4 separate regions of the Homo sapiens genome follow, and regions 1, 2 and 4 are each reported to be linked to region 3. The links are microRNA targets in miRTarBase. Many come from high-throughput screens and were not tested one by one. Region 3 holds a microRNA gene; each other region holds the end of a gene's coding sequence.
What was found. The annotated mature microRNA hsa-miR-1273h-5p reads CUGGGAGGUCAAGGCUGCAGU and lies in region 3 at 5,410-5,430, shown strand. An mRNA with a match to its seed (bases 2 to 7 or 8) in the 3' UTR can be bound and repressed. Matches are read on the target gene's strand: a 7mer-m8 pairs with bases 2 to 8, a 7mer-A1 pairs with bases 2 to 7 and ends in A, and an 8mer does both.

Region 1: the mRNA of MICOS10 is a reported target of hsa-miR-1273h-5p. Seed matches in the 3' UTR shown: 8mer at 3,918-3,925.
Region 2: the mRNA of SLC10A6 is a reported target of hsa-miR-1273h-5p. The part of its 3' UTR that is shown has no 7-base or 8-base seed match.
Region 4: miRTarBase lists C6orf132 as a target of hsa-miR-1273h-5p. The part of its 3' UTR that is shown has no 7-base or 8-base seed match.

What each region holds. Positions count from the first base shown.
Region 1 is chr1:19,625,254-19,632,253 of GRCh38, reverse strand. It overlaps MICOS10 (mitochondrial contact site and cristae organizing system subunit 10), which reads right to left. Exons shown (of 4, transcript NM_001032363.4): 4 at 2,434-5,867. The coding sequence ends at 5,853. The region is part of intron 1 of MICOS10-NBL1 (MICOS10-NBL1 readthrough); the gene reads right to left. Among named protein-coding and RNA genes, the nearest start is that of NBL1, 16 kb to the left of the region's middle. RefSeq lists a silencer at 3,193-3,393.
Region 2 is chr4:86,816,253-86,824,642 of GRCh38, forward strand. It overlaps SLC10A6 (solute carrier family 10 member 6), which reads right to left. Exons shown (of 6, transcript NM_197965.3): 6 at 7,216-7,650. The coding sequence ends at 7,436. Among named protein-coding and RNA genes, the nearest start is that of SLC10A6, 29 kb to the right of the region's middle.
Region 3 is chr16:24,197,739-24,206,128 of GRCh38, forward strand. It overlaps MIR1273H (microRNA 1273h), which reads left to right and starts at 5,378; the gene lies at 5,378-5,493. All of the region lies in intron 16 of PRKCB (protein kinase C beta), which reads left to right.
Region 4 is chr6:42,096,889-42,105,278 of GRCh38, reverse strand. C6orf132 (chromosome 6 open reading frame 132) reads left to right here. Exons shown (of 5, transcript NM_001164446.3): 4 at 1-816; 5 at 1,401-4,160. The coding sequence ends at 1,518. Among named protein-coding and RNA genes, the nearest start is that of C6orf132, 42 kb to the left of the region's middle. RefSeq lists silencers at 456-605, 626-725, 886-935, 4,843-5,064.

The DNA.
Region 1 (7,000 bases), not on the chromosome of region 3:
ACGTATTTTCTAGTATGTTGGCTAAGAGGTGGACAAAGCTTTTGGTGTGTCTAAGCAATGGCACACCAACAGCAGCAAGCACACCTAGAGAGCTTGGTTTCTAACTACCACTCCCCACTCAATGGAACCAGGGCTCCTTGGAGAAATTGCTGATTCCAGGGCTGGGTGGGGCAAATACAAGAAGAGTCTGCAATAGCTCGTGTTCAAAGAATGGAATGGATATGTCAAAGGGATACAGATACCATTTGAAAGAGACCCTACTGGACAAATCTAGACAATTTGAGTTAAATATTAATAATAATGGATTGTAATCAGTTGAATAAAATGAGAATCCATGAGTCCATACTGATATAGATAAATGACTAAATAAATGAGGGAGAAGGGAAAGTTCCACGTAATAAGAAATTATTATGCCACATAATAAGAAATAATAAATTTAGGACCAGATGCAGTTGTTCATGCCTGTAATCCCAGCACTTTGGGAGGCTGAGGCAGGTGGATTGCTTGAGCCCAGGAGTTCAAGACCAGCCTGGGCAACATAGTGAAACCCCATCTCTACAAAAAATACAAAAATTAGCCAGGCATGGTGGCATGCAGCTGTAGTCCCAGCTACTCAGGAGGCTGAGGTGGGAGAAACACCTGAGTCCTGGATATCAAGGCTGCAGTGAGCCAAAATTGTACACCACTGCACTCTAACATGGGCAACAGAGTAAGACCCTGTCTCAAAAAAAAAAAAAAAAGACAAAAAGAAAAAGAAATCTAATTATCTAATTGAAAAGTGTATAGATTTTAAGATGCCTACTGCAATAAAATGTCATGATGCTTTATTACATTTGCAAGGACTTAGCCAAACTTATCAGCAACGCTGACCCAAAGCTCTGATTGATAATTATGTTTCTGATTAATAGAAAATAGACATAGGAATTACTTTTTTAAACAAATACAGCTGACTTCAAATTGGATCAACTTATTCTTACTAATTTAAACTCAGTGAAACTGGCTCTGATCCATTTCAACTAGTTTAAGTATCTCAAATCAGGTTTAAACTGGATCAAACTGCTTTCCTTTGAAATGACCCTCCCCACTTTAAACAGCTTTCGACCAGCATAGAAAGTAGGTAAGAGTCTGGCCTCCGGAATCAGGTTCAGATTCCACCTGCATTGTTTTCACCTACTTGTCCTTGGGCAAGTTAATTTGCCCTTCCAAAAACTGTTTCTTCATCCATAAAATGAGGATAATAGTACTTTTATCATAAGCTTGTAAAAAGTAAGCCTCGTGATATATGTTCTGCCTAGCTCAAACTGGATGGACCGGGAATAAAGATGACTTGATTGACAGTTGATAATGAGCTCTTTTTTTCTAGCCCCAGTTTCTTCCCCGTAAAGATTCATCACCTGCCCACTCCTCCTTCAAGAATTCTTGACATCTTCCTCCACCTCCACTTTCTGGCTCTGAACTCCTTAAGTGAGGGTCAAACAATTGAAGCCAATTATCCTGAATGCAAATGCCCAGTAATAGTTCTATGTTCCTACCTGGGCGGAAGCTCCTAGAGTTCTCTTTCTTCAGTGTCTTTTCCCCTTCTCCCCTCCTAGCCTAGCTCAAAGACCATGTGCTCCGTAAATAAGTGTGTGTGTGTGTGTGTGTGTGTGTGTGTGTGTGGTTTTTAATTTTTTTTAAGACAGGGTCTCACTCTGTCACCCAGGCTGAAGTGTAGTGTCATGATCATGGCTCACTGCAGCCTCAACCTCCTGAGCTCAAGTGATCTTCCCTCCTCAGCCTCCCAAGTAGCTGGGACAACAGGTGCATGCCACCATCCCTGGCTAATTTTTGTGTTTTTTGTAGAGATGGGGTCCTGCTATGTTGCCCAGGCTGGTCTGGAACTCCTGGGCTCAAGCAATCCACCTGCCTCAGCCTCCCAAAGTGCTGGGGTTACAGGTGTGATCCACTGTGCCCAGCCTGCAACAACCCCTTAGGTTAAGGCAACTCCCCGTGGTCACCTGGCAAATAAGTGGTAGAGTGGGAACTTAGATCCAGTCCCCTGACTCCAAATCATTTACAGCCCTGCCTCTCCCTTGGTTCTTCTTTGTCAGGGCACTTGACAGCAGAACAGTTGTCACTCTTGATCCACACAGAGGCCGCTCATTAGACATGGGGCTTCTCCCCTGCTCCTGCCCAAGTCTGTCTTTACCCCAATACCATGATTTGGTGTCCAAGGGGAAGCGATGCTTGCAGCGCACTTTAAGAAAAAAGTGGTGATAGCTTCCAGATGAGCTTATTATTCTAAATTTAACATTCCTTTTGGTACTTAGAATTTCCACTTTCTCCCTTCCACCCCGTTTGCATTTAGGTAATTAGAAAGCACGCAACAGGAAAACATTTGTGTCTCAGTACCATTCAGGATAAAGGCTGTCCAAGCGCCATGGAGTCACATCCTTGTGGAAATACTTTGCAGAGTTTATTTGGACAGGTTCAAAAATAGTCCTTCGACAATACAATCAGATCGAACCACGACAAGTAAAATGCAATTATGGGTTGGTTACATTTTTAAAAAATGTAAACAGGTTTGGGAAAACTAAAAGCAAAACTACATCGTCATCTCCTCCATTCCCAACCCCTGCATTTCTTACAAGCAGGACTTCAAGACGGCATCTGCAATCTTTTGAAATGGATGAGAGGATGACACTCACTAAAGGAGACAGCTCAACAGTGTGTTCTGAGGCCATTTCTCAGAACAAAGGCATACTTCTGCATAAGGCAAATGCAGCCTGATAAAGCTTCCCCTAGTGGGTACATGGAATGCCAAAGTCATTCACCTAAATGAGCTCAAAATACATATTGTTCTGGGCCAAATTATACAGTGTCAAGCTCAGACTGTATGTATTTATGTATGTTGGCAGAGCAGGCCACTTTTGGGGCGCCACAGCTTTATCCTAGCATCCTGTGCCCTGCTGGGTTCCCATCGCTGTCTCCCCAAACCCATGAATTTCCTTGGATTTGGTTCCAGAAAGGCAGACAAGAAACAAAGTCAGTTGCACAAGCCCACAAGGGAACAGGGCCCCAGAGGACTTGAATTTCTAATGAAACTTAAGAGTAACACAGAATGTGTGCCTTTGCCAACAAGCCGGGACTTTCTGAAGGTTGATCTGAGATGGGGGCAGGGAGTGGGGACAAGATCAAGTGTGCTTTGGGCCAGCCTCCGCTAAGGGCAACAAGGCGGGAATACAAAGCTATCTAGAACTAAAGCAACTGGCCAGTGCTTCCTGTGGCCTCTATCCAGAACTATTCCCTCAGACAGCTGACCCCTTTCTCAGAGCACTTCAGTGGTGCTTCCAAGGTGCCAAAGGGATCCATCCAAATAAATGCCTAAAGCCTAACAGCTAATGAGATAGAGAACTTTCATTCCAATGCCCCTCTCCACTCCCTATTTTTCTAATGTGTCTAGGGAATTTGTGGCTACCTTGTGTTTTGTCTTTTTTGGAAGGGGGCATGTTATTCTTCTCTCTGCCTGAATGAGGATGGGAAAATGACAGAAAAATTGGGGAAGGAAAATGCTTTTTTTTTTTTTTTTTTTTTGAGACAGATTCTCGCTCTGTCGCCGGGCTGGAGTGCAGTGGCGCGATCTCAGCTCACCGCAACCTCTGCCTCCCGGGTTCAAATGATTCTCCTGCCTCAACCTCCTGAGTAGCTGGGACTACAGGTGTGCGCCACCATGCCCAGCTGATTTTTATATTTTTAGTAGAGACAGGGTTTTACAATGTTGGCCAGGATGGTCTTGATCTCTTGACCTCATGATCCACCTGCCTTGGCCTCCCAAAGTGCTGGGATTACAGGTGTGAGCCACCGCATCCGGCCAGGAAATTACTTTTAAAGCAAATAGGAGGCTGGGTGCGGTGGCTCACGCCTGTAATCCCAGCACTTTGGGAGGCCGAGGCGGGAGGATCACCTGAGGTCGGGAGTTGGAGACCAGCATGACCAAGGAGAAACACCGTCTCTACTAAAAATACAAAATTAGCCAGGTGTGATGGCGCATGCCTGTAATCCCAGCTACTCGGGAGGCTGAGGCAGGAGAAGCGCTTGAACCCAGGAAGCGGAGGTTGCAGCAGGCCGAGATCGCCACCATTGCACTCCAGCCTGGGCAACAAGAGCAAAATTCCATCTCAGAAATAAATAAATAAATAGTAAGAAAACAAGTGGAAGGGATGAAACAGGCTGCACATTATTTTTCTTTCAATTATATGGGTTGCCTTAATCATAGAATGAAGAGGACCAAGTGAAAAACAGCCAAGTAGCAATAAAGAGGAAAACAAGCCCAGAGGGCAGAGGAGCCTGGACAGTTTGCAGGGCAGAGCCTAGCAGACCTTTCTGGAAAAGGGAGTGGGGAGGCTGAGGGAGGGTATTTGCTACCCTGAATGTACTCACTATAGCACTTGCAAGAACTAAGGTCTAATCAATGTTCCAGAACTGGAGTCAGACATGAGTTGTACCCTATTGCCCAGCCTCCCCCTCCATGCCTTTCCCCTGCCCCTACACACCCTGGCTATGCTGAACTACTTGCGATTTCCCAGCTATAATATGCATTACATGATCCTGAGCAAACACAGAGGCTACCCTCCTTCTGTCTGGGATTCCCAGTCAACTTCGGGTCCCAGCGCAGGCATTCCGTCGCCTGTGGGGCCATCCTAGGGAGACATAGTTGCTCCTTCTCCTTTGTTCTCAGTGTACTTTGCCTACACCTCTCTTCTCCATTAAAACACTTCTTTCAGAGTTGTGTTTGCACGTCTGTCTTTCCATCAGACTCTAAGCTCCTTGAAGGCAGAAGCCTGTGTCTATTTATCCATTTATCTCTGCTGCTTACAACAGTGCCTCGCTTACAGTAGATGATAAATCAACATTTACAGGATACAGGGGCAAGTGGGATCGGGCTCTCCCTATCTTAATTCTACGATAAGGAAAAAGAAATAAGAACGGCTGAGCGCTGGGGTTCTGTATATCGTCTGAAGAAATTGCTAAAATATGACTTTTGCATCTAGCATCCCTGGTTCAAGTGAAACCACAGGAACAAACTCAGAGGGGCATCAGAAGTGGCCCTTTTGTCCTCAAACTTCAGCTGCTACGTGAAGATAAAATTAACCCCAATCGGGCTCCTCCGGCCAGGTGGGTATGCCATGAGCTTTCCTCCGCCCTCCAGAGCTGAAGCTTGGACTGTCTCAAGCTCTATGAAGCTGCAGGACTTGACTTCAATGGAGTGGGCCATCCACACAGCCAGGATTCTTCCCCTGCTAATACAGCAGCAGTGGGACCGCCTTGCAGTAGGCACAGCGGAGATGTGCCCTGCCAGGTCCCCAGGTGAGAACACACGAAGAGGTGCCACAGAAGGAAAGGCGCCTTAAGACATCAGTCATCTCCATCAGGCCACGCAGCAGCAATCTTCAACTTCTGATTACGAGGTGGAAGCAGTTCTGAAAACTACGCCTGAGGGGGCAAATGGGAAGGATACCCAACAACTGGTTTCAGGGGGTTCTCAGAGAGGCTGTGAGCAGGTGGCTACAGCTGCTGGCAGTTCACACACAGTCCTCCTCATGCTCAGAGACCAAAGGTGAAGAAACAAAGGCCATGCAATGGACTTCCTCTTTTTGTTTAATTTATTTAAGACCACCTCCTTACAACTTCCAGAGAGAAAATACAAAACAAGAAACAGACTTGGTTTCAAATGCATAACCAGGTGCTGGAGTTTAAAGCATTACTGATAACATTGTTACAGAAGAATGGCAGCTTACTCCAGGGCACTTCAGTATTCCTGAGGAATAAACATGATTTCTCTTGTCCTCCCGCTGGGATGTTCTCAGGTGAAGTCACTGCTCCTGCTCCTGTAAAGCAAGGACATTCAGCTTAAAACTGTGCAGACGGCATTCTGACAACCCTCTCTAATTGCTGTATCAGGTCAGACCCAAAGGGCCAGAAGCCAAAACCTTATCACACTGTTTACGTTAAAACTGTCTCACAACAGGACTATGTACACCCTACCTAGGTTCCTAAGAGTGCCATCCAGCCCCAATCTTCCAGGGAGAAGAGTGGGAAACGAGTGGAACAGGGCCAAACCATCATGACCTGGATAACAATTCCTAAAACCTGTCGAAGGCGTCCCAGGGGAGTGGGGAGAGCATGGTTCTCATCAGCCTACGAACTACATGGCCTTGCCAAGTTTCTCAACCCCGGTAAGAGTCTGCTTTCTCATCAGCTGAATGAGGATAGTAACATCTCTCACAAATCAACTGGCAGGTCTAGAGGGAAAGATTATTAAAGATAAAGCACCCAGGATGGTCCTGGGGGCAGATTGGGCACTCAGGAGGCAGTTATTACAATAGGACTACACTGAATAAGCCCAGGTTGGGATTTTGCTCCATTTTTCAGGGAATGGAGGATGACAACATCGAGGCACAGACTCAAGTCCAGATAAAGTTACAAGGCCATTTTGGAGCAGGACACACAAATGTAAAAAATGGAACAATATTTTCCACAGGAACTCCCAGCCATTAAATACATAATATGCATATAATCACCCCTGAGCCATTATCCCTGACAACTCAGTTTGGAACAATGGAAATGTTTTAAGCAAAAGACCTGAAGCTTCTCTGTCTGCTCCTTTCGGTTCTCCCCACAATCAGCTCTGATGCCAGGAAAGCGAGGAGCCAGGGAGTGGTGGAAAAGGCCGGCTGCCGGCTTCAGTGCCACACAGCTGCGCCTCTTCTTGCATGGTCCCTGTGATGACCTCACTCTTGCTTTGGTGCAGAGATGGCTCCCCTACTCCCATCTCTCCAGCAGACATGGGCTGGCTGCAGGCAGCTGACGGTTTCAGCAGGTTCTAAAATGGCAGGTGCAGGGCCGTGGCAGGATACTGCTACTTTGGATTTGGTGGCCCTTGTGGCCACAGCTCCTGACTAGAATTAGGACATGCATTTGTACCACATTTTCCACTCTACTTGTTGTTACAGTGGAACAA
Region 2 (8,390 bases), not on the chromosome of region 3:
TTCTGAGCTAGTTGACTTGAATTTCCAAACTTAAGTGCAGCAATTTGCTGGGACCTATTCCCGAGAATCTGGGGCTATTTGAAGGCAGAAGACAGTATCAATAAACATAAAGCCCCACAGTAACTAGCTAAAGCCCCAGCAGATAAGAGGCTTGGGTCCTACCTCAGAATTGGCTCTGAATATGGCAAGAGAAGCTTTACCATTCCCACTTCAATCAGAAGAGTATTATAGATTGGGTTGTAGCCGGAGATTTCATTTGAAAAAAAGGTTTCTATTGCTTTAAATGACATTTGGAAATCTCTTTTCTGAAAGAGTTGGAATCATGAGGCCTTGTTTTCCTGCACTGGCATGTGAAACTAGGCCAGCAGAGCGCTGGGGGCCAGTACAGCTGGAGGTGATTAGCTCGCATCTGAAGTCAACATAGATGGGAGAGGGTGGAGCTGGAGGTTGCTTTTTCTGGAACGAATGTCACTAGGAAATGGAATGGGGGGAAGAAAATGCAGATTTAGCTTTATGACCTATGAATGGAAACTTCATGATGGTAAATATGTTACTGCCCTCAGCTGGGATCTGGCTGCACCAGCATGGAATGGTATGAGCCACTTGCAAGGGCCAGTCTGGTTAGAAAGCAAGGTGAGGCCACGCAGCTGGGGTGGCACATGGAAACACTCATCTCAAATTAATGAATAAGTACAATTCAGCTCTTAACACAGCTTGTATTAGCTAAGTGCTAGAAAATATAAACTGAAGATATGGAATGGCTTAAACGTAATAGTTTATTTCTAGTTTATCTAACAGTTCTGGAAAAGTGAACAGCTTGGCAATCAGATCTACTTGGCTCAGTTTTTAGCCCGGGCTGATGAAAGTACTGTAATCAACACATAGCTTCCAAGGTTGAGAATCGCCTCCATTCCCCACGAAGGATTGCCTATGGAGAGGTTTTACGAGCCAGGCTTACATGCAAAACACATTGCTGTCACTCATTCCATCAGCAAGAACTGGCCAAATGATTGCCAGTGACAACTCTATGCTATAGAAGGGGAAGCACATATTGTAGTAGAATATATTTACAAAACTGAACTCGTTATTATTCTAAAAGATTGAGTATCTTAGTGTAGTCCTGAGCATTGCAGAATTAGAAACAATTTTATCCCAAAATCAAAACTTCAGTGCATGTCATTAGTAGAGATAATTCTGAATTATTATGGCAAACAGGAAATAAACAGCTGTTGAGAAAAGATTCTTTTACATCAGTGGTCCCAGATAGCCTGCCAGATTTTTTGGTTTAAAAAGGACTAGTTATCTATATGTAATGTGATAATCCAATAAATTTAAAAAACAGCTTAATACACCTATCTTCCAGATACAGACACCTTGATAATGATAGGCTTTCCATTTTACATAATTCAGAAATATTCATAATTCAGAAACATTGTAATGGTAGAGATAAATGTAATAAATTATAGGCTGACCTGCATAATATTTTAAAGCCAATCGAAACTTTACTGTATCAATTTGGGATTATATTTGACTGCAAGTAAGCAAAAGCAACCAAACAGGCCTACAAGTTGTAAATCAATAAGTATGTGAGACATGTCTCAATTTAGAAGTTTATTTTGCCAAGGTGAAGGACATGCCTGGAAGAAATGACATGGAATCACAGAAATAGTCTGTGGTCTGTGCCTTTCTCCAAAGATGAATTTGAGGGTTTCAATATTTAAAGGAGAAAAGTGAGCTGGAGGGGAAAGAAGAGGGGTATGGTCACATCACTGAACCCACATGTTGCAGGAGAAAAGGAGCAGATAGGGAAATAGTTATGTATTTATCTTGCACTCAGCACATAGATAAGGTGAACGTAGAGTAACTACCTGTGGAGATATTTAACCTTTTATCTGTAGCTATCTGCTTAGGAACAAAAGGAAATGCAGTTTCTTGCATGACTCAGCTTTCAGCTTCATTTTTTTCCTTTTGGCGGAGTGAATTGGGGTCCCAAGTTTTTATTTTCCTTTCACAAATTCTAGAGGGCTTAGAGTTTATTTTCTTTCCTTAAGAAACCAAGCTCAGAAGGCAGTTGCTCAGAAGTAGGCAGTTAATTCTATAGCTCAAGAATGTCAACAGCGCTATAAATATCCTTGGCCTTTCCTTGGCCTGGAAGTGGCTGCCACAGCTCCAGCTATTATATCCACATTCCAGAAAAGAAACAAGAATTGGCAAGGAAAATGGGTCAAACAGTACTAGGGCAAGAAAGCAAAATTTCCCAGAAGTCAAGGGCAGACTTTTCCTTCTGTCTTAGCAAAATCTGTCAGATGCCCATCTCTAGCTTCAAGAAAGTTATTTTTAGCTAGATGTGTTGCTGTCTAGCTATGAACAATATCTTGATTCTGTTCATAAGGACAAAGACAGCAATTGATACTGGGTCCCAGCAAGTAGTGTGTGCCTTTCCAATTCTGCCTCAGTTTCCACCATTCCGTATAAGGTAGCGAACACTATGCCAATTTTTCAAGATCTTCATACATATTTAGAAGATTCTGAATTTGTAACTATTGAGGAGATTCACTGATAGGAAGTATTTAAAAGTAGTCTTCAATTTTTACAGGTTTAGAGACATAGTTTTATTCACTCAACCAAACTATAACCATATTCCAAAGGTTGTGCTAAGCAAAACCTCAGGACACTGATAAACCATGTTGCTGATTTATTAGCTTACAAGGAAGCTATAGGTGGGTCTAACAGAATGAGGAAGGCTGGACATTCAGAAGGGGCTCCTCCTGCTGGGGAAAGTACATGTCAAGGCCAATGGGAAGGTTGCCTAGAGACCAACATGTCATTCATTAACTGGGTTAGGCTGAATGATCCTCGACGCAAAGGGTATTTCTGATTACACAAGAAAAAAGTAGGGGATGTAACAAGTATTGATCACTTATGGATTGGACCAGGTGTTTTCACCTTGCCTCGTTTTCAGGTTGTTCAGGATTGAATGTGTTATCAACCTTTTTTAGAGAGGAAACTAAACCCCAGAGGGATTGTCACTTGCCCAAAGTTGCCCAGATACCCAAGGTAAACGTTCAATTTCAGCTCTGACTGACTTCAACCAATAGCTGTGGAGGTCTCCTAGCTATTAAAGTAGAATGCAGGCTGGGCACGGTGGCTCACGCCTGTAACCCCAACAATTTGGGAGGCCCAGGCAGGCGGATCACCTGAGGTCGGGAGTTCGAGACCAGCCTGTCCAACATGGGTGAAACCCCATCTCTACTAAAAAAAAAAAAATACAAAAATTAGCCAGGTGTGGTAGCGGGTGCCTGTAATCCCAGCTACTCGGGAGGCTGACGCTGGAAAATCACTTGAACCTGGAAGGCGGAGGTTGCAGTGAGCTGAGATCACGCCATTGCACTCCAGCCTGGGCAACAAGAGCAAAACTCCAACTCAAAAAAAAAAAAAAAAGTGGAATGCAGGCAGCCCTGACACAGCCTGTGTTCTCTCCACTGCACTCTGCTGCCACGACCATCCAGCTGCCTCTTTCCTCTTAGACATGGACTCATTCTGCTTAACATGATTTCTCTGGCCCCACTTCTGAGTTTCATATAGGTCCCAGCTTTTATTAACTCATGATTCTTTACATCAATTAGAATGCAACTTACTCAAATCGGACTTTTTTCCAGTTATATTTTTTGTTCTAAAGATAACGTGGCCTTCTGAACATCTTCACTATTTCAAGTTCTTGTCAGTAACATGTTTACAAACCATCTATGGAGATGGCCATCTTCTGATGTGTTGTTTCTATCTTAAAGGATGGCCTTTGGTATCCCTCATCCTTTTGGTGTCCCTCATCCTTGGAACGTCCTAACTGTTGTAAATACTGACCATATTGTTAAGCTTTCAGAACAGCATTAAATTTTACCATTTTGTTTTAGGTGTCTATGTGGAGAAACAATTTAGAAATTCATTTTTTGTGGATTCTTTAAAACTCATGGAGCCCGGGTACGATGGCTCACGCCTGTAATCCCAGCACTTTGGGAGGCCAAGGCAGGCGGATCACTTGAGGTCAGGAGTTCAAGACCAGGCTGGCCAATATGGTGAAACCCTATGTCTACTAAAACTACAAAAATTAGCCAGGCGTGGTGGCACGTGACTGTAGTTCTAGCTACTGGGGAGGCTGAGGCAGGAGAAGAATTGCTTGAACCTGGGAGGTGGAGGTTGCGGTAAGCTGAGATCGCGCCACTGCACTCCAGCCTGGATGACAGAGCAAGACTTCATCTCAAAAAAAAAACAAAAAACAAACAAAAAAAAACCTCACGGTAATACTCATTTTAGAGCTGGAAATCTCTGTTACTTGCAACTCTCCTAACTGTGTTCATTGCAGTGATCTATTCCCCTACTAGACTATAAACTTTGTGAGGGCAGGAGCCATGTCCCATGTGCCTGAACATAGCACAGACTAGCTTCTCATTATGTAAACATTTATCATATGGATAAAGGGGACTCTCCGAATAGTAAACCAACAGTTGAGAATTAACAAGTCACAAATCTGCATAGTTCTTTTCCATATAAAAAGTGCCGTGGCTCTAAGACCTAATGGGGCTCCTTCTGTACTACCACAAAGGCTTTCTGAATTGGTGGAAAATACAATAATCATTGTCATTGCATTAACCCACAAGTTATTGGGAATACTTACAAAATAACATTATAAACATTAAATCTCAAAACACTTTCTCACACATTTCAAAACTTACAAATAAGAATAGACACAAAATGGAACCAGAGTCCCAACAAAAACACATTATATAGGAAGTTATGTGATAAGGGTAGCATTTCAAATCAGTAGATAAAAGAATAATGATTCAATATATGATGTTTGGATAATTAACTATAAAAAAATTAGATTATTATGCCATACAGGAAAAATTCAAAATGGAATAAGTATGTATGTATTTGCTCCATCACAGTATTAGAAAAACATATGGGAAAATATTTTTAATAATTTCTAGTAGAGGACAGATTTACCTACTGCCAGGCATCATGTATTGCATGGGAAGACAAGAAGTACACACAGCAGCTAGTAAATATGTTGTGTAAGCCCCCAGAAAGAACTCCCTGAAAAGGGGCCAAATACATTCTCAAAAAAAGATTCTATCACAATTCACAATCCACACAAATATATAAATATGCTAACATTTGGCAGAGATCAGAGCAAAAAAAAAACATTCTTAATAAGATTAATAAGCTGAATATATTAAAAAAATAAAACTCTGTATTGCAAAAGACATAGAGTAACAAAAGATAAACGAGTAGGTAAAATGTTGACAAAACATAGGACACATTGTCACTTATCATTATGGTTCAAAATCTATACATCAAAAAGGAAAAGATACAATAGAAAAGCAGGCAAAGGACATAAGTTGCCAAGTGATTGTGAAAAATGCTTTAGTTCATTCAGTTTTTAAATGAAATTTTGTTTTTTGTTTTTTGTTTTTTTTTGAGATGGAGTTTCGCTCTGTTGCCCAGGCTGGAGTGCAGTGGCATGATCTCGGCTCACTGCAACCTCCGCCTCCTGGGTTCACGCCATTCTCCTGCCTCAGCCTCCAGAGTAGCTGGGACTACAGGCGCCCGCCACCACACCAGGCTAATTTCTTGTATTTTTAGTAGAGACAGGATTTCACCGTGTTAGCCAGGATGGTCTCGATCTCCTGACCTCGTGATCCACCCGCCTCGGCCTCCCAAAGTGCTGGGATTACAGGCGTGAGCCACCGCGCCCAGCCTAAATGAAATTTTAAATGAGATGTTTTAACCAATCAAAATTGATCATTCATTTGACTGGTGAGACTGTGGGAAACCAGGCCCTCTCAGGCACTGCTGTACAACGTTGCCAGATAGCAATCTGTCATACATTTCGGTAAGCAATTGGCTTGGAAATTCAAGTCACAGGAAGTGAGCCTACAGAAATACTTGCACCTAAAGGCAAAAGTGTTTGTAACAGCACTGTAATACTGTTAAGCTGAAAGCTATCTAAGTGTCCATGAATAAGGAGTGGTTAAATAAATTACAGTCCTTCCACACAATAGAATACTTCCACATCACTACTATACTAAAGAATGAGGTAGGTCAACACAGACTGACACTCAAAGATGTTCCATAATGTGTCATCAAGTGACTTACAAAACAATATATGGAATGATCTCAAGGTTCTTAAAATGATACAGTTTACATACACAGCTTAGAAGGATACACATGGGTCTTTCTTTTTTTTTTTGAGTCAGAGTCTTACTCTGTCACCCAGGCTGGAGCGCAGTGGCGTGATCTCAGCTCACTGCAACCTCTGCCTCCTGGGTTCAAGTGATTCTTCTGCCACAGCCTCCCAAGTAGCTGGGATTACAGGTGCATGCCACCATGACTGGCTAATTTTTGTATTTTTAGTAGAGATGGGGTTTCACCATGTTGGCCAGACTGGTCTTGAACTCCTGACCTCAGGTGATCTGCCCACCTCAGCCTCCCAAAGTGCTGGGATTACAGGCATGAGCCACTGTGCCCAACCATGTGTCAATCTTTAGAAAGTGAAAATACAGGGCATTCCATTTTTAACCGTATGTGTGTTTTAAATTCTTTCCAAGCTTGTGTTACATCTATAATCAAAATGATTTTCAATTTCTTAAAAATAATAATCATTTGAGAAAACTGCCCCATTTATTATAAGAGCTATTTGTTCTCCTCTCAGTGCACCTGAGGACCTGCCCAGAGTCAAGAAGTCACATAGGTCTGCGTCACCCTGCAGTATGAGGTGACATCTCCTCTACTTAGAGTTCTAACTCTTGTTCAATTAAAATCCACAACGTGGCTGGGCGCAGTGGCTCATGCCTGTAATCCCAGCACTTTGGGAGGCTGAGGCGGGCAGATCACTTGAGACCAGGAGTTCGAAACCAGACTGGCCAACATGGTGAAACCCCATCTCTACTAAAATACAAAATATTAGCCAGGCATGGTGGCACACACCTGTGATCCCAGCTACTTGGGAGGCTGAGGCAAGGGAATCACTTGAACCCAGGAGGCGGAGGTTGTGGTGAGCCGAGATTGTGCCACTGCACTCCAGCCTGGGCAACAGAGCAAGACTCTGTCTCAAAAAAAAAAAATCCACAACATAAGGATAAGTTCCCCTAATGAAGGATTTTACCTACTGCCAGGTACTATTTGCTGCATGGGAAGACAAGAACATACAAGGCAGCTCATTGATACGTTATGTTAACCCCCAGAAGAAACTCCCTGAAATGGGAATCTCCAAAAGTGATCCCATCACAATTCACAATCCACATGAAAATATAAATATTCTAACATTGAACACTTAAATATTCACACTGGCCCTACCAACAAGATTCATGTGTCAGCTGCACACTGTCTTTACTGGCCACTGAAAAAGAAGGGGGCCAGTCCAGCCAGCTAGTCCCTGCTATTCACATGAAGTGATGTGGCCAACTGGCTCGAGAGCCCTGTGGCAATCCATTGGCCCTGGTGGCCCAGGAGTGATGGCACCTTCTTCATTCACCTCCAAGAAGGCATTGGTCTCTCTGGAAGAAGTCGATTTCCTCGTATGGCAGACTTCTGTGCAACCTGAGTTCTTTTTTCCATGTTTGTTCTTCAATCTCCTCTTGTACGTCTGATATGCTAGGTGTTAAAACATACAAGTATTAACAATCACTTTAACAAAGAGTCTAATTTGGTGACACTGTACACTTGTCAATCCTTCAGGTGTTTGTTTCAGTGGCATCATGTATGTATAAACACCCAGGGAAAAGAAGGGGGAAAGAGAGAAAGCTATAGAACAGAAGGATTCAGTGTATCAGAATGGCTCTTTTGTCTGGATGAACCATTTGTGATTGAGGCTCATTCATCAGGTTGCTGACAGCTTACACACTCATATATTCATTCATTCATTCATTCATTCATTCACTCATTCAGCTAGTCAGCTGGCAAATACTGCGAGTGCTTACTAGAAGTAGGACACTCTCCTGGGTTCTGGGCTAGAGCTGGGAATGAGCCAGAAATGATGCTTGCTTCAGTCTCTCCATGAGAAGGAAAGAAAACTTGGGTCTGAGACCAAGAGTTTGACTCTAATAGGATTTATCTTATCTGTTGGGGAAATTAAGCCCCAGGTATTCCTGATATTGTTATATTGATTGTTATATCTGTAATCAGTATATAATAATAACAATCAGCAATCAGTATATAATCAGTTCTATCAGTAATCATTGAGTCTTACTCAGACCCAATTCCCTAACAGCAGCAAAAATTTACCATGGCCCAAGATTAAAATATATATGTGTATGTGAACATATATATTTTTTTTTTTCTTTTTCGACTTTTAGATCCATGTGCATGTTTGTTTCCTGGGTATATTGTGTGAT
Region 3 (8,390 bases):
GTTGGCATCCTCAGGTCCTCCCCAGTTCCTGGCATCTTGTAGGCACTCAGTCATTGTCTCATGGAGACATGAAGGCGCTGATGAACATGAGTCCCTGCAGACTGCCCACATGATTGCTCCTCAAGTATAAAACATGGTAGCCAAGAGTTTGGTCCCAGTAGCAATAGGATGAATGAATGAAATAGATGGTCAGGAAAGCTTCTGTGATACAGAGCGCTGGCTTGCAGGGCATAGAGCAGGAGGACATGGTTGTGCTCTTGGTTGGACTTCCTCCTGTCCATCCTGTTGCAAAGAATGTAGTGATATCGGAGGGTGCAGTGGCTGAGGGCTGTACCCAGGGAGTTGCTTTGTGTCTGGGTGATCCAGCTCAGAATTTTGCTGACTTGTAGCAAAAGGTGCATTGAGCCTTTGGCATGGATGAGCATATTTTATTGCAGAAGTGGTAGTACATGGAGCTATAATGTCACAGGACAAGATATGCTAGGTAATATGTTCACATTGAAATGCCTAATGGAGAGTTTGGTGGCATTCATGTATTGTCACGAATTGGCTTAATGAAGTCCTGTCACTCTTCCTCTGAAAGGCTCCCATAGTGTCCATAACACCTAATGAAGGGCTTACTGTGAAAACTGGGTAGGGGGATGAGCCCAGGGTACAAGGATTCAGCCGCCTCAGAAGACAACCCAGGTAGCAGCATAGAAGCAGTGAGGTGAAGAGGAAGAGAAAGCTAAGTAGGCTTCATTAGAGTCCTTGGAGTCTTTTCTGCTTTTTATTTATTTGTTTTTTCATTGTTTTTAATTAATTGCCCAGGCTGGTGTCAAAATCCTGGCCTCAAGTGATCCTCCCACCTCTGCCTCTGAAAGTGCTGGGGGTTACAGGCGTGAGCCACTGTGCCTGGCACCTGTGGAGTCTTAAGCGCTAAAGTGTGTGTACAATGATCTGCCCAGTAGTAAACATGGCTCTAGTATTCTTTTAAAATATTATCAATCAGATCATCAATTGTTCTAAAATATGGTCAACCAGATTGTCAAGTGTTCTAAAATATGATGCATCTGATCGTCAATGCTCTCTGGGCAGGGCTTGAGGAGTACAACCTGATGAGAAGCAGACGTTAAGATCCCCTTTCCTCCACTCCTGACATTGGAGCAACCATCCAGTCCTGTCTAGACATCACTACAATGCTCATTCCCTCCTTCCTTCCATTCTAGCCTGTGTCAGGCCTCACTAACTCCAAACCCACTTGTATGACAGACTGATTCCAATCATTTCTGCTCTTGTTACCGATTCTTATCTGCACTTTACTTAAAGCCCCATAATTTTGAGGCATCTGGACAGTAGGAAAGGCTGAAAACCTGGCAAGCTTTTATAGCTTGCAAAGGTCCTTGTCCTATGCTCTGTTAGTATCATTTCCAAAATACTACTTGGGCTATCTGATCACATCCCATTGCCCGTATCCTCTGAGAGTCTAAATGCTGAACTGCTTCAGAAACTAAATCATACTCACAGGACTTGGTTTCTCAGCAATTTTATCATCTGAAAACATTGTTTATGTAGCTGAGGTCAAAAGCTTCAAGTACTGCTTTAATGAGCTGCGAATCTGTTCATGTGACATTCTCTTCCAAACCCAATTGCCCTTTACACTGTATGAGTAAGTGCCTCTGTGTGTGTGTGTCTGAATGTGTGTGTTTGATGTGCTGACATTTCTGAATTGAATCCAGAAAGTGTAACCTTTGTATGTTTGCTGTTAAAACTCCAAATTCAAGCCTTAAGAAAAGGATCTAACACTTACTCAATGTGATTTATTTAAGCACAGAACCTAACTCCCCCAAAGTATCAAATACTCAAGAGAACAATTCATTTTTGAAAATTGTGATTTAAAATAATTCTCATAAAACCTTTACTGTTCAAATATATTAGAAAATATATTGCATTTTTGTCTGCATCAGGCACTGTTTTAACTGCCTTCCATGAATTGCCTCATTTAATTCTCTCAACCCTGTAAGGTAGGGTTATCACCACAGTATAGATGAGGAACTAGAGCTTGGAAAAGTTAAGGCATTTGCCCAAGGTCCAGCAACTAGAAAGCAGAGGAGCCAGGACTTGATCCCTGGACTGTACACTGCACAAGACCCTTGTAAAGATTATTAGAAGCACTTGGAGCCCCTGGTAAGGTTTGTGATTGTGCTACCAGGAGAGTCATGATAACACCATCGAATGGTGTCTGTTACATAATAGAAAAAGACTGAGTATTCTTACAATTCAAATGATTTAAATTTATTTTAAAATATTGCAACAAATAAGTAGCATCTTCACAGCTTTTATAATTCGTTGTCAGGATTTTAAAAGATGCAAATCTTATTTGTTCCTTAGGGCTTTGATTTTGAGGCTGACAAAGACGGCATGCATTGACTAACCTCTGAAAGAAGGGCATGGCAGCATTGAAATGAGGCAGCCGAGACAGGCTCATTAAGGAGTAGAGGTTTCCCTGCTCATTTCTGGTTGTTCTTTTGGGGTATCCACTGTGTGGAGTTTGCAGAGATCTTAATAAAAATATCAACCTACATTTATATACTGACAAACAAATAGCCAAGAGCCATTTAGGACACACAGCTTGGAGTCTGTTTATCTCTCTCCACCTATCTACACACCCATGGAGAACCCATTTAAACTTCAGATCAAACCAGGCTCCCTTTAGATGGTTGGAATTGTCAGGTTCCTGAGCCAGGTGAAGTTCCTAAATCAGTTTCTGTCTTAGTCCATGTTGTGTTGCTATGACTGAATACCACAGACTAGATAATTTATAAAGAAAAGAAATTTATTTCTTACAGTTCTGGAGGCTGGGAAGTCCAAGGGTGAGGGGCTTGCATCTGGTGAGAGACTTCTTGCTGTGTCATCCCATGGCAGAAGGTGAAGGGCAAGAGAGAGTATGCGTGCATGTGTGTGCATATATATGCATATGCATACATGTGTGTGCACATGCAGGGGAAAGATACGGAGCCAAACTCATCCCTTTTATTAGGATCCCACTACCAAGATAATGTTGTTAAGTTCTCATGAGGTGCCACCTCTCAACACTGTTGCATTGGAGATTCAGTTTCTAACACATGAACTTTGGCGGGGCAAGTCAACCATAGAACCTACCAGATACATGACTTTGAGTCATGTACTATTATATTATTATTTATTATTATTATTGTTATTTTGATACTGGTCCATGGCCCAGGGATTGGGGATCCCTGCCCTAAATCGTGAGGAAGATTGAGGCCCATGGGTGCCACTGGTTGGTAGCCGTCAGCTTCTTACCACCTACCGGCACCTCCATAGTCATCTTGACCTCCTTGCCCAGCTTCCATCTCTGTCTTAGCAAATATGTTTTCCCTCCCCCAACTCATGTGAGACTTACCCTCACTCCTGCTCTGGACTCCAGCCTCTTGATCCTTCATGCTTATCTCCCCTGTTTAGTCTGTCTACAGCTTCTCTCTGTATCAACAAAACTCCTATGGTTTCAAATAGGAATCTGATTTAAACTGACTTTTAAGCAAAAAATAATGATAGTTAGTATTCAGATGTAGATGGATCATCTACATCTGGTCCCAAACAATGCCAGCAGGGAAACATTTATCTATATCCCTTAGGATTACTTTCCCCACTGTGTTGACTTCATTCTTCATTCTCAGAAGGCTTTCTTGGGCACATAGCAACTCCCAATTTATGTCCCATTATCTCTGCAACTTCTACCAAAGAAAAGGGCTTCCTTTTTATAAAATCCCAGCAGCCTAGGACTCAATCTTTTTGGAAGATTATTGGGTCATATGCCCATCTCTAAGGGAATTGCTCACTGCACCAGGGGGATGGAATGTGCTGATTGACCGGGCCTGGGTCACCAGCCCCTCTTAGCCAGAGAGCTGGATCTAATCCAGACATTTTGAAAAAAGAGAAGGAATGTCCTATCTAAATCAGACATTTTGAAAGAAGAGAAGGAATATCTCCTTTAAGAAAAAAAAGCCACTGTCATGGCCGGGTGTGGTGGCTCACGCCTATAATCCCAGCACTTTGGGAGGCTGAGGCGGGTGGATCATGAGGTCAGGAGATCGAGACCATCTTGGCTAACACGGTGAAACCCCATCTCCACTAAAAAATACAAAAAATTAGCTGGGCGCGGTGGCGGGCACCTGTAGTCCCAGCTACTCGGGAGGCTGAGGCAGGAGAATGGCGTGAACCCAGGAGGCGGAGCTTGCAGTGAGCTGAGATAGCGCCACTGCAGTCCAGCCTGGGCAAAAGAGCGAGACTCCGTCTCAAAAAAAAAAAAAAAGAAAAAAAGAAAAATAAAGCCACTGTCACTAGAAGAAAAGACAATGCCTGCTGGCTGGGCAAAAACAGCAGCTGTCCTTTCTGACTCTATCCTGGCCTTCTCCTTTGTGCATAAACCTGCTATGTCTTTTTCATGTTAAAAATCCCCTACCTCAAACCTGGGAATCCTCCTTACTACTACTCTTACTACTGCTATGATTACTACCCTACCTTACTTTGCATACAAACACACTTTTGAAAGAGTTGCCAGTTCCTGCTATTTCCACTTGATGACAATTTATTGTTTCCTCAGTTTGGTGCAATCTGGCTTCTGCTCCCGCCATCCTATTGATATTTTTCTCATTGAGTCATCAATGACCTGAAAACTGCCTCTTCTCATAAGCTTGTCTCATCTTTCTTGACCTCACCATATTATTAGGTGCTCTAATCCTTTCTCCTTTAAAAAAATGTGAAAAAATAAAATATTCAAGCAGCATCAGAAGCTACAAAGTGAAATTAAGATTCCCCTCACCCATGGCTCCTAGCTAGGCTTCCTGGTTCTCCTTCCCAGAGACACCCATTGCAACCAGGTTCTTGTGTGACCTTCTAGAGAAGATGTGTTCAGGCCCAGAAATAGTCTACATCACACACAAGGATGTTAGCATGCTGTGTACAATTTCTGTATCTTGCATTATTCCCCTCTGTCTTGGAGATTGTTTCTTATCTGCTTATCTAACTCTACATCACCCTTTGAATAACTTCCTAGTTTCCTATATAAGTGAGTTTATCTGTAGGAAAAGTTCAGAGTGCCTTCTTTCTTTTTAAGCCCCTCTTCTCCTTCATTTTTATGACATTGTGTGTCTGTCTTAGTCTGTTTTGTGCTGCTATAAGAATACCTGAAACTGGGGCCTGGTGCAGTGGCTCATGCCTGTAATTCCAGCACTTTGGGAGGTTAACATGGGCAGATCACTTGAGCTTGAGCCCAGGAGTTTGAGACCAGCTTGGGGAACATGGCAAAATCTGTCTTTACACACACAAAAATTACAAAAATCAACCAGGTGGGGTGGCACATGCCTGTAGTCCCAGCTACTTGGGTGACTAAGGCAGGATTGCTTGAGCCTGGGAGGTCAAGGCTGCAGTGTCGTGGTCACAGCTTGCTGCAGACTCGACCTCCCAGGCTTAAGCAATCCTCCTGCTCGAGTGACAGAGTGAGACCCTGTCTCAAAAAAAAAAAAGTGGATAACTTACAATGAAAAGAAATTTATTTGGCTCATGGTTCTGGAGGGTGGGAAGTACAAGATCAGGGGCTGTATCTGGGGAGGACCTTCTTGCTGCATAGTAACCTGATAGAAGGCATCACATGGCAAGAGAACACATGAGGGAGGGTAACTTACTTTTTAAATAAATTCACTCCCACAATAATAACATCAATCCAGTCACCTCCAAAAGTTCCCACCTCTCAACACTGTTGCATTGGGGATTAAGTGTCCAGCACAAGAACTTTGGGAGAACACATTCAAACCATATCACCACATTTGCTGATGTTCTTCCTACCTTCACAGCCACTCCCAATAGAAATTCCAACTCCACAAAGACTTCCAGTGACAGTTGAATTTGGAGGGTTGAGACCAGCTCATGACCCAGAAAGGAAAACAGAAAGCTTACTTTTTGTTTTGTTACAAGTGCAGTCTCTTAAAAATAACCACAAAATGCCCCCCCAAATGGCATATGGAAAACAGCACAGAGATGGTGTGTTAATCTACCTGAAATGTCTTTCTAAGGAAGTGAGGCTTGGATGGGAACGGAAATGCATCCCTTTTTCTTCCCAGGGTACACGTCTTTTTCTCACTTCCTCTAACTGGGAGCCCCAGGGCCTGGCTTTGTCTTGTAGCTTCCTGCCGTGATGCACCAGGCTAAGTGGGAAGGTTTCTGTTCTATGTCTAAAGTAGCACTGGCAGGTCCTCATTCTGCTTGTAATTGGGATGGGAATATGGGTAGGAATTTAGGGTTTGGCAGAGCGTACAGGACCTCTTTCAAGCCAGAGCACAGCCCTGTCAGACTTACTCACTGGACATGAATGGGTCAGTCAGCCCTCAGCAGTAACCACCAGCTACCATGTTAAGTATTTGATGTGAATTTTATCAAGTCATTCTCGCCACACCCTACAAGAAACTTGAGCTTAGGGGACTTAGCTAACTTGCTTGAAGGTTGTATAGCTGGGAATTGTTGGAGCCAGGATTGGTACCCAGGTTAGCTTAACTTTTAAGTCCGTGCCACACAATCAGATACATAGTATGAGGCAATGGGATGTAATGGAAAGCCCATGGGCTTTGGAATTGAACAGATGGGCTCTGGATCTTGGCTCTCCTACTTGACCCTATATGACCCTGAACAAACTGTTAACTCTTAAAATTATCTGTTAAGTAGAGATAATCCTTTTCCTGCCTATCTCACAGCCTTGTGGGAATCAAAGCTATAAAAAGATAGGCAAATAGAAGGGATAATTACTATTTGAGGGTGAGTTTACTTGAAGCCAACAATGTGGGTTTAGGATGAATGGTGAAGAATAGATAAGAAAAAAAATGATATTCTGTTGACATGGGAAGATGTTTAGAGTGTATTTCATCTAGTTTCTTTTAAAAAGCAAGCAAAAGAACAGAGTCATGATTCCACCTTTGTCTAAAAACTAAAAAACATCCATTCATCTATTCATCCAGCCATCTAGGATACAAACCAAGATGTTAACATAATACAGAGATTTGGGGTGGCGGGATTAAGAAGGATTCTTTTGTGTGTTTTAAAATTTTTTATGGCCAGGCACAGAGGCTCATGCCTGTAATCCTAGCACTTTGGGAGGCCAAGGCGTGCAGATCACGAGGTCAGGAGTTCGAGACCAGCCTAGCCAACATAGTGAAACCCCGTCTCTACTAAAAATACAAAAATTAGCTGGGCATGGTGATGGGTGCCTGTAGTCCCAGCTACTTGGGAGGCTGAGGCAGGAGAATCGCTTGAACCCGGGAGGTGGAGGTTGCAGTGAGCCGAGATCGTGCCACTGCACACCAGCCTGGGCGACAAAGTGAGACTTCATCTCAAAAAAAAAATTATTATTATAATTCCTTTTTTTTTTTTTTTTTTTTTTAGAGACAGGGTCTTACTCTGTTACCCAGGCTGAAGTGAAGTGGAACAGTCATAGCTCACTGCAGCCTCCAGTTCCTGGGCTCAAGGGATTCCCCGTGCCTCAGCCTCTTGAACAGCTGGGACCACAGGCATGCACCACCATGCCTGGCCAATTTTTAAAAAATTCTTTGTAGAGACAGGTTCTCTCTATGTTGCCCAGGCTGGTCTCAAACTCCTGATCTCAAGTGATCCTTCCACCTGGGCCTCCCAAAGTGCTGGTATTATAGGCATGGCACCACCATGCCTGGCATCTTGGTGCTTTTTAATAGCTTGTTTGTTTCTGCGATAAATGTAGGAGACTGATAGAAGAGTCTGGATCTCTTGTCAAATCTAGGATCAAATCGTGGTCAGATACTTAAACTAAACCCATTTTCTCATTGCACAGCAAGGACTTCATAGAGCTTTTGGGGGGATTAAAGGAGGTAAAGCTTGCAAAACACTTAACACAGTATCTGGCTCATAGTTAGTGCTTAACATACACTATTATTTGTCCATTTGATTTTTTTTCATCCCTGGGTTCTAGAAACGCAGTGGTGAATAAAACAGATGTGATTTTGCTCTCATGTGGCTTACAGTCTAGATGAGAACATAGACAATCAACAGAGAATGAACATGTATTAATAATTATAGACTGAGATATACCAGATTTTATTTCTGTTAAAGAAATGAACAGGATATCTTGACAGAGAATAACAGGAGGGAAGAATGAGAATCCTCTTTATTTGAAGGTGGTCTGGAACAGCTTCTCTGACAGGGTGCCATTTAAACTGAGATCTGGAGGAAATCAAAACACTGGATGTTATTTTTTAATGAAAATTAAGAAAAGCAAGAGCAAAACAAAACAGACTTAGTATCAAACACAAAAGACCCCTCTCCTACTGACTTCCTCCCTAAATAAACATAAGAGATAAAAGATCCCTGAT
Region 4 (8,390 bases), not on the chromosome of region 3:
CTCTGACAGCATCTTCCACAGCCAGGGCACGCCCAACTCCTTCACTGTGGTGCCCAAGTTACCCAAGGAGGCTGAGAAGGACTCCCCGCTGACGACCGAAATACCCAATAAGTGGGGGCCGCGGCTGGGAAGAGACGCAGAGGGCACAGAGCTGAGCCGCAGGCACAACTGGACAAAGCCAGAGCCCCAGGCCCCTGTGGCCTGGGAAAGAGTAGCTCCCTCCAACCTCCCCCAGGGCCACCCGCTGCCCAAGTCCTTCTCCTCCCCACCTTCTCCTTCGAACAAGAGGGAGGAGGAGGAGGAGGAGTTCAACTTCGAGGTCATCCCACCGCCGCCAGAGTTCAGCAATGACCCTGAGCCCCCGGCCCCGGCCCTCCAGTATCTGGGCCGCCAGAGCTCCCCTCCCCGGAACAACTACTCAGACTTGAGGCAGCTCCCGAACGCTGGCCCCGGGGCGCCCCCGGCTCTCGGCTTCTCGCGCTTTCCCGCGGGCGCGCGCTACGCCGGGGCTGGGGGCCTGGAGCGCTTCTCGGGAGGGGGCCGCTCGCTCATAAAGAAGCGCCTGTACGTCGGGGAGCCGCACCGAGGCCCAGGGCTACCCCACGGTGGCACCGGCCGCAGCCTGAGCTCTCCCAACTGCTTCGGGCCGCAGCCCGGAGGCCCCGAGATGCGGCGCGTGAACTCGGCGGGTCGCGCGCCCCCCGGAGGCCTGCACGCGCCGAGGCTGTCCCTGGAGGGCGCCGCCCGGGGCGCCGCGGAGGCCAAGCACAAAGCGCCCGGCAGCGCCGACTACGGCTTCGCCCCAGCTGCCGGCAGGTGAGCTGCGGGCCCGGCTGGTGCGGGAAGCCAGGAGGGGTGGAAAGCCAGGCGAGGGCCAAGGAGTCCCGGCCATCCGTCAAGAGAAAACATTTGGTTTTCTCCCTTCGGCCTTGCAGGTAGAACGCGGGAGGGAGGCCCACTTACCGGGAGAGGGCGCTGTTGGCGCCTTCCTGACCTCCCTCCTGACCTCCCTTCTCTTTCCCCACCAGCTCCTCTCGTCTGTCTCTCTCCTGCCCGCTAGATCCCAGAGGTCAGGCTAAGTGTGGGGCGGGGAGAGATCTGAGTGGCCCTTGGGTGGAGGGATTTCCCAACACAGAGTTGGATCCCGACACAGGCCAGGAGTGAAAGAGTTCTGAGTGAAAGGCTGTTAGGCATGTTCTCCGGCCAGCAGGGCCCAGACCAGAATGGGAGCCCTGTTTGTGATGTCTGCGGTCCCTCCCTGGGGTCGATAAGCCCAGGGCTTGTCGGGGCAAATACAGAAGTATGAGCAGCATCTTTTCCTCTCGGTCCCTCGGGGAGATGAGAGACGTGTTGGCTAACCAGCTGCAGATATTCACCTCACATCTCTTGCTCTCCCCCAGGTCTCCCTACACCACCACCCGCTATGGAAGCCCCATCAACACGTTCACCGTGAGGCCTGGGACCCGCCATCCCATCTCCTATGTCTGCTCAGGGGCCCATCGGAAAGCCACCTCCTGAGCCAGGGGTTCTCTTAGCTCTACTCCAACAAACTGTGTCTTTAAGGATCTGGGCACTTGTTTCTTGTGGGGGGTGGGAGGTACACAGCAGGTGTTGGGCGACCTGACTCAGACACAGAGGAGTCTTTGATCCCCAAAGACCAACGATGAGAAGCAGTGGCCCAGGAAGACCGAGAGTGGGCTTCTGTTTCCCAAAGCGCTGGTGTGACTGTGGACTGTTTACACGTGGGGGGTGGGAGGGGAAGGAGGGTAGAGAGAAGGAACCATTAAGGACCTGGGCGCTGAGTTTCTGCTCTCTGGTACTATCTGCTTTAGCAAGAGTTATTTAAAACAGTTTTACAAGCACGGCCTACTGAGCAGGTTCTGAAAGCAAGGGGTGGGGCACTGACTGAACTGGAACCCATCGAGATAGCTGTGATTGCCTGTCAGGCCCTTGCAAAGGGCTGAGGCCCAGCTCTGTCTGGTGGGTGTGCAGGGCACCGAAGGGAGATCTTTAGCCTCCATCACCTGCCATCCCAAGCAAGAGTGGACACCTGGGGTTCCTAGCCGCATTGAGGTGGGACCAGGAATGTGTATGTATAACATGTGGAGAAGGACCATGTGTGGGGTGGGGAGTGAAGCTCCCACATGTGGAATGGAAGCCCTTTGCATTGGCCAAGGGCAGAGGTGGGAGATTGATGGTTCATTTTTCCTTGGCCCTAGCCCTTAGCTACAGGGAGGCCTAGAGAGAGGACACTTGGCAAGTTTAGGATGGGAAACAAGGTTAAGCCTGGCTTTGCTATTCAGACCTGTGCAGCCCTGATTTTGGGGACTGGGCCCAAGGAGCCATGAGTCTTAGGCTTGACACTAGGGGCCTTACATGGCCAGGTCTCATATGGGATTTGGAGAAGGCATTTTTCCTAACACTGATACTACAAGTCACCAATACTCTTGATGCCTTAAGATGCTAGAAAGCCTTGGAGAGTGGAGGCAGCAGAGATGGGAATGGAGGTCTGAAGAAGCTTGCTGCTGTTGGGGAATGTGTTTGGGAAAGTCAAGAGTGGTAGGATTGGTTGGCTGGGCGCGGTGGCTCACACCTGTAATCCCAGCACTTTGGGAGGCCGAGGCCGGTGGATCACTTGAGGTCAGAAGTTCGAGACCAGCCTGCCCAAATGGTGAAACCCCATCTCTACTAAAAATACGGAAAAAAAAAAAAAAAGAGTGCTAGGATTGGGCCAGTTAAGAGCAGGGGAGACCTGGCTGGGCATGGTGGCTCACACCTGTAATTCTAGCACTTTGGGAGGCTGAGGCGGGTGGATCATGAGGTCAAGAGATTAAGACCATCCTGGCCTACATGGCGAAACCCTGTCTCTACTAAAAATAAAAAAATGACCTGGGCATGGTGGTGGGCGCCTGTAGTCCCAGCTACTCGGGGCGCTGAGGCAGGAGAATCGCTCGAACCCAGGAGGTGGAGGTTGCAGTGAGCCGAGATTGCACAATTGCACTCCAGCCTGGCGACAGAGCGAGACTCGTCTCAAAAAAAAAAAAAAAAAAAAAAAAAGGAGCAGGGGAGACCTATCAGTAGGGTGACCACGTGTCCTTTGCCTGGGCAGTCCAGGTTTATGCTTGTTTTCCAGTGAATTAGACCCCCTTCCACTTTTCAAAAAAGTCCTGGTTTAGATGCTGTGATCACCAAACATATCAGGAAACAATATTCCTTGGTCTTGCTTCCCTATCTTCAGGTACTGGTGGGCCAAATTCCTGGGACCAGGTCAAGGTGGGCTGCCTCAGTAAGAAGGAAGGACTGGAGAGTGCCCATTTCAGAGGAGCAGGCTGGTGGGGGCCAGCCAGAAAGTAGTTCCCTTTGGGGGGAAGATGTTGGACCTTTATTATTTGTGGTAACCAGCCGAGGCTGGTTGTCAGGACAGCAGGTGAGCCACTTTAGGGAAGAAAGTGCAGGGGTGGGTGGATGCCCAGATTACCAAGGCCAGCCACCCTGATGGGGTAGGGTCTGGTTATCTGTGTTCAAGAAGCAAATCCCACCCCAGCCCCAGCACTAGCTCTCTATGTATGTATTTTCCCTGTACAATGTTTTATAAAAGAGATCATTAATTTATCTGCTATGTTAAGGCTCGAGGGGTGGGGCGTAGACTCTCAGCTGTATATTGCTCTGGGGTGGGCAGGGAAGGCTGAGTCTCACTTGACTTGGAAGATAAACAGGCCAGTTTGGACTGGCCTCCAGCTCCGTGGCTGTGTTTGTCTAACAAGGATTTGGGTAACTACTGGATACAAGCCACTGTGCTTAGTATGGATAGACTGCCATCAGCTCACCCACATGACTCCTGTTCATGGCAAGCTAATAGTCTGTCTGGTGGAAGAGGATTGAAAAAGCACACAAAAACATCATAAATTACAAGGAGTAGTAAGAAGGAAAAAACAGGGAACGTGAGAGAATAACTAGCGAGTGGGGAGAGGAGTGGATTTACTTTAACAGGGTAGTCAGGGAAGGCCTCTTGTGGTGGTGACATACTGATTTAGGCAAAGCGTCCAGCACGTGCCTAGCGCTTAGTAGTTGCTCAGCAAATGGCATCTTTGGGTGATGAATACCTCACATTTGTATATGGCCTGTCACAGTTTTCCATAAAGCTTTTTTTTTTAAGGCCATCTTGACGTCATACTTTTAGAATATTTTATTTTATTATTATTATTATTTTAGACGGAACCTTGCTCTTTCACCAGGCTGGAGTGGAGTGGCATGATCTTGGCTCACTGCAACCTCTGCCTCCCAGGTTCAAGCGATTCCCTGCCTCAGCCTCCTGAGTAGCTGGGACTACAGGCATGCGCCACCACACCCAGCTAATTTTTGTATTTTTTAGTAGCGATGGGGTTTTACTGTGTTGCCCAGGCTGTTCTTGAACTCCTGACCTCATGATCCACCCACTTCGGCCTCCCAAAGTGCTGGGTGGGCGTGAGCCACCGCACCCGGCCCCCAATTTTTTTTTTCCAAAAAAGTAACCAGAAAAGTCATCTCAAGACAGTGTTAGAGAAAGCGTTGTGTTTCCTCCTCTGAGTCTTTTGTGGGGGCTTTATGGGAAAGGGAGGATGACTCACTTACTCTGAAATCTGGGCTTCCAGGAAGGGCCTCTCCCATCCTTGGAGCCTCCTCATTCTCCTGTCTCTCACTGTCCCCCCACCTCTACCATGATGTCCTCATTCTGGAAACCCCGAGCAGGGATAGTGGCTTGGGCCCTTCGTCTGGCTTTTCTCCCCACACTTGCTCCCTTCTAACATTTTCTCCCTCATCTGACATGGAAGGGGCAATGGTTAACCCAGGAGGGAGGGCAGAGAACAAGGGCCCCACATCCTGGCTCTGCCTCTGACAAGCTGTGTGACCTTGGGTATCAGCTGACTCATCGGAGAAGTGAGGAGGACGGACTTGGGCCGTGTCTGGATATTAAACTTTGTTGGGTCCCTGACCTCTTTGAGAAACTGATGCATGCTTCTCAAGAGGCCGCAAGTGCATTTTACACACTATTTCAGGCACCCCACAGATCCCCCAGATTCAGGCTCCACAGGCTTCATGTTGAAAACTCCTTAAGTGACAGTGGTCAAGGTACCCACCAACACTTATTTAACCTTGACAGTTTGCAAAGTTCCTTCTCTCTCTCGTTTACCTGTGACAGTCCTCTAAAATGTGCCAGCCGTGTAATACTCCTAATTGCATTTTGTTGTTGAGGAAATGAAGGCCCCGGGAAGAGACGTGAGTTGCTCAGAATGGCCCCTCTGACTGGAAACCCTGTTCTTTCTGCGTGAATCATCACAGCTGCCTCCCTTATAGCTGTAACCACTCTCCCCACCCACTTATCCTCTCCCGGTTGTACTCCCCAAACTTTACCTCTATTAGAGTGGTGGAGAAGAGGCTGAGTAGGCTAAAGCTACCCTGGTGCCAAAAAAGGTTAATGGGCATGGGCGGGGCAGATGTTCCTGGATCAGATTAGCCACACCTTGGTTTCTGAAGCCGTTTCACTGTTCCCTGGGCCAGAACTCCACCCCACCTCTCTTGTGAAGCCCAGCCTGGCCGAAAGCAACAGCTAGGACAGGTCCCGGGAAAAGCTGAGCTGGAAGCCTGGGGCCTGGCGCCAGCAATATATAAAGGGGCCTGTCGTGAAAAAGGTCAAGCTCAGCTTTTGTCACGGCCAGGCTTGTTCAAGGAGAGAGGCTTCCCCTCACTCCCGGTGAGCCCTTCTGTGCAAAGCTGTAGGACAGAGGTGACTCCGGAACCTGGAGGGGTGAGGCAGAGGCCACCTCGCTGCTGAGCTGTCAGGCAGGCCTGCCCCCACCTGCCTACCCAGGCAGACTGTGGCCACTTCCCTTTCAGCAGCTCAAAGGCCATGCTCATGCCCCATCATCAGTCAGCTGTATGGGAAGGGTGGACACTGGCACCCATCAGAGAGCCTGGGCCCCCTCCCTCCGAAGCCCCAGGGATGGCCAGAGTCTGAGCCCTGCTGTTGGGGCCTCTGGGATGCTTTTTGCCAGCAATGTGAGAAAAGGTGCTCTTCTGGGAGAGAGGAAGAGACCCAGGCAATTTATTATGAATGCTCCCCGTTGTATGGATAATCCTGTGCTCCTCTGCCCAATTCCCGCACCTCTGGAAACTTCATTCACATTTGGCACAGATGAGCCACTCCTCCCTCCTTCCCCTTGAGAATCGTTCTCTGAGCCTGTGCAGAACAAGGTGCTCCGATCCTCTATCTTGCACACTGGCTCCTTTCCTCCCCCCAACTGTCTCCCTGTCCACCCTGTCGTCGGCTCTCCAGTCCTCCTTCTGTAGTTTCTTCCTCAGAAGACAGTGTCGCCCCTCATGCTCACCTGTACCAGGGGTCCATATTTCTAACTTTGGAAGTGCCTCCTGGACATGTCCATGTGGTTGCCTGGCCATCCACTCAAATCCAGCCTCTCCAAAAGGAATGATTCTCCCCTACTTCCTTCTCACACAATTGTGTGGCCAGAGTAGCCGGACCAATGGCTCCAAACTACCCCCAAATACTCATCCCCGCCTCACTGCTTGGGCCCCCTTGGCTTCCCCTAGGCCAGCTCACACTCAAGGTCCAGCTTGGATCGGAGCTCCTACAGGAAGCCTTCCCCAGCCCTGCTCTGCTCGGAGACCTCTTCCTCCTCCATACCTACCTCTCCCACTTCTGTGGCAGGCTCTTCTTTATCCTCAGGCTTCAGCTCAGACATCCCTCACCTGCTAGGCCACAGCAGCTCCTGCAAAGCTTCCCACGGTCCCTGCTGCTCTCCCTCCCCGCACCTAGTGTTACTTGGTCTACATCTCTCTCCCAGCAACTTGTAAGCTCCACAACGTAAGGACGCCTCACTCATCACAGTATCCCCAGCATCTGGTGCTGCTCCTGGCACCAGCAGGTGCTCACTATATTGAGTTTATTGATGAATACAAGTTAGTACTTAATCAAATATCATCAAGCACTGTGTAAGTTCCTTGGCTGGGCGCGGTGGCTGACACCTGTAATCCCAGCACTTTGGGAAGGTCGAGAGGGATGGATCACGAGGTCAGGAGTTCAAGACCAGCCTGACCAACATGGTGAAACCCTGTCTCTACTAAAAATACAAAAAAATTAGCCAGGCGTGGTGGTACACGCCTGTAATCCCAGCTACTCAGGAGGCTGAGGCAGGAGAATTGCTTGAATCTGGGAGGTGGAAGTTGCAGTGTGGAACTTAATCTAATGCTGAGGTTATCAGGCTGAGGGAAGGTTTAGTTTTAGGGATGAGTCTCTAAGGTCTCATCATAAAGGTGTCCAGATGCCTTGGAGTGGCTCCTGCCTGGTGGGCTGAGATACTGCATCCTCTAAGTAGAGACATGAGCTAGGATGTTATGGCACCAGGTGAGGGAGTCCTGGTCCTCAAAGGATCTCAGGCAGCCCTCTACACCCCACCAGTGAGCCAGCCACAGGGGCGGCCAGCTCCAACAATCCAAGTGACTTGCACTCTGTTGCTTTTTCCCTTTTGAGCTCCTTTGGTCTTCAGCAAACTTACTTGGTGCCACAGCCTATCTCAGCTGTGGACCAAGGGTAAAGTTTCCATTACATGTGGGCGGGAGAATTGAGAAGGAAAGCACCTCTGGGGGCCAGGGTGGCAGAAGCCAGCCAGGTCCGACCTGTTCACCAGCCCTCCCCACCTGCAGAGCCCACCTTCAAGAGGAAAGCCTTACAGTTCTAGGTTTGGTTTTTATTAAGGAGTGAGCTCCCTGCACAAGGTTTTGAGGGCCTAGCAGGGGTCTAAGCACAGAGTGGGGACCCAGTAGACTTGCTGTTTTGAATCTCTTCCATCTCAGCATAGGATCATTAGCCCTAATGCTACTCTCAGAAGTGGGACACTGGCTTCTCATTTTCTTTTCTTTCTTTCTTTCTTTTTTTTTTTTTTCCTGAGGCAGGGTCTTGCTCTGTCGCCCAGGCTGGAGTGCAATAGTGCCATCATAGGTCACAGCCTCCAGAGCTCAAGTGATCCACCTCAGCCTTCCTGGTAGCTGGGACTACAGGCATTCACCACCAGGCCTGGCTAATTTTTTTTTTTTTTTTGAGATGGAGTCTTGCCTTGTCGCCCAGGCTGGAGTGCAGTGGTGTGAGATCGGCTCACTGCAACCTCCACCCCCCATGTTCAAGCAATTCTCTGCCTCAGCCTCCTGAGTAGCTAGGATTACAGGCGCCCGCCACCACACCTGGCTAATTTTTGTATTTTTAGTAGAAACAGGATTTCACCATCTTGGCCAGGCTGGTCTTGAACTCCTGACCTTGTGATCCACCCGCCTCGGCCTCCCAAAGTGCTGGGATTACAGGCGTGAGCCACCGTGCTCTTCCTAATTTTTGTCTTTATTTT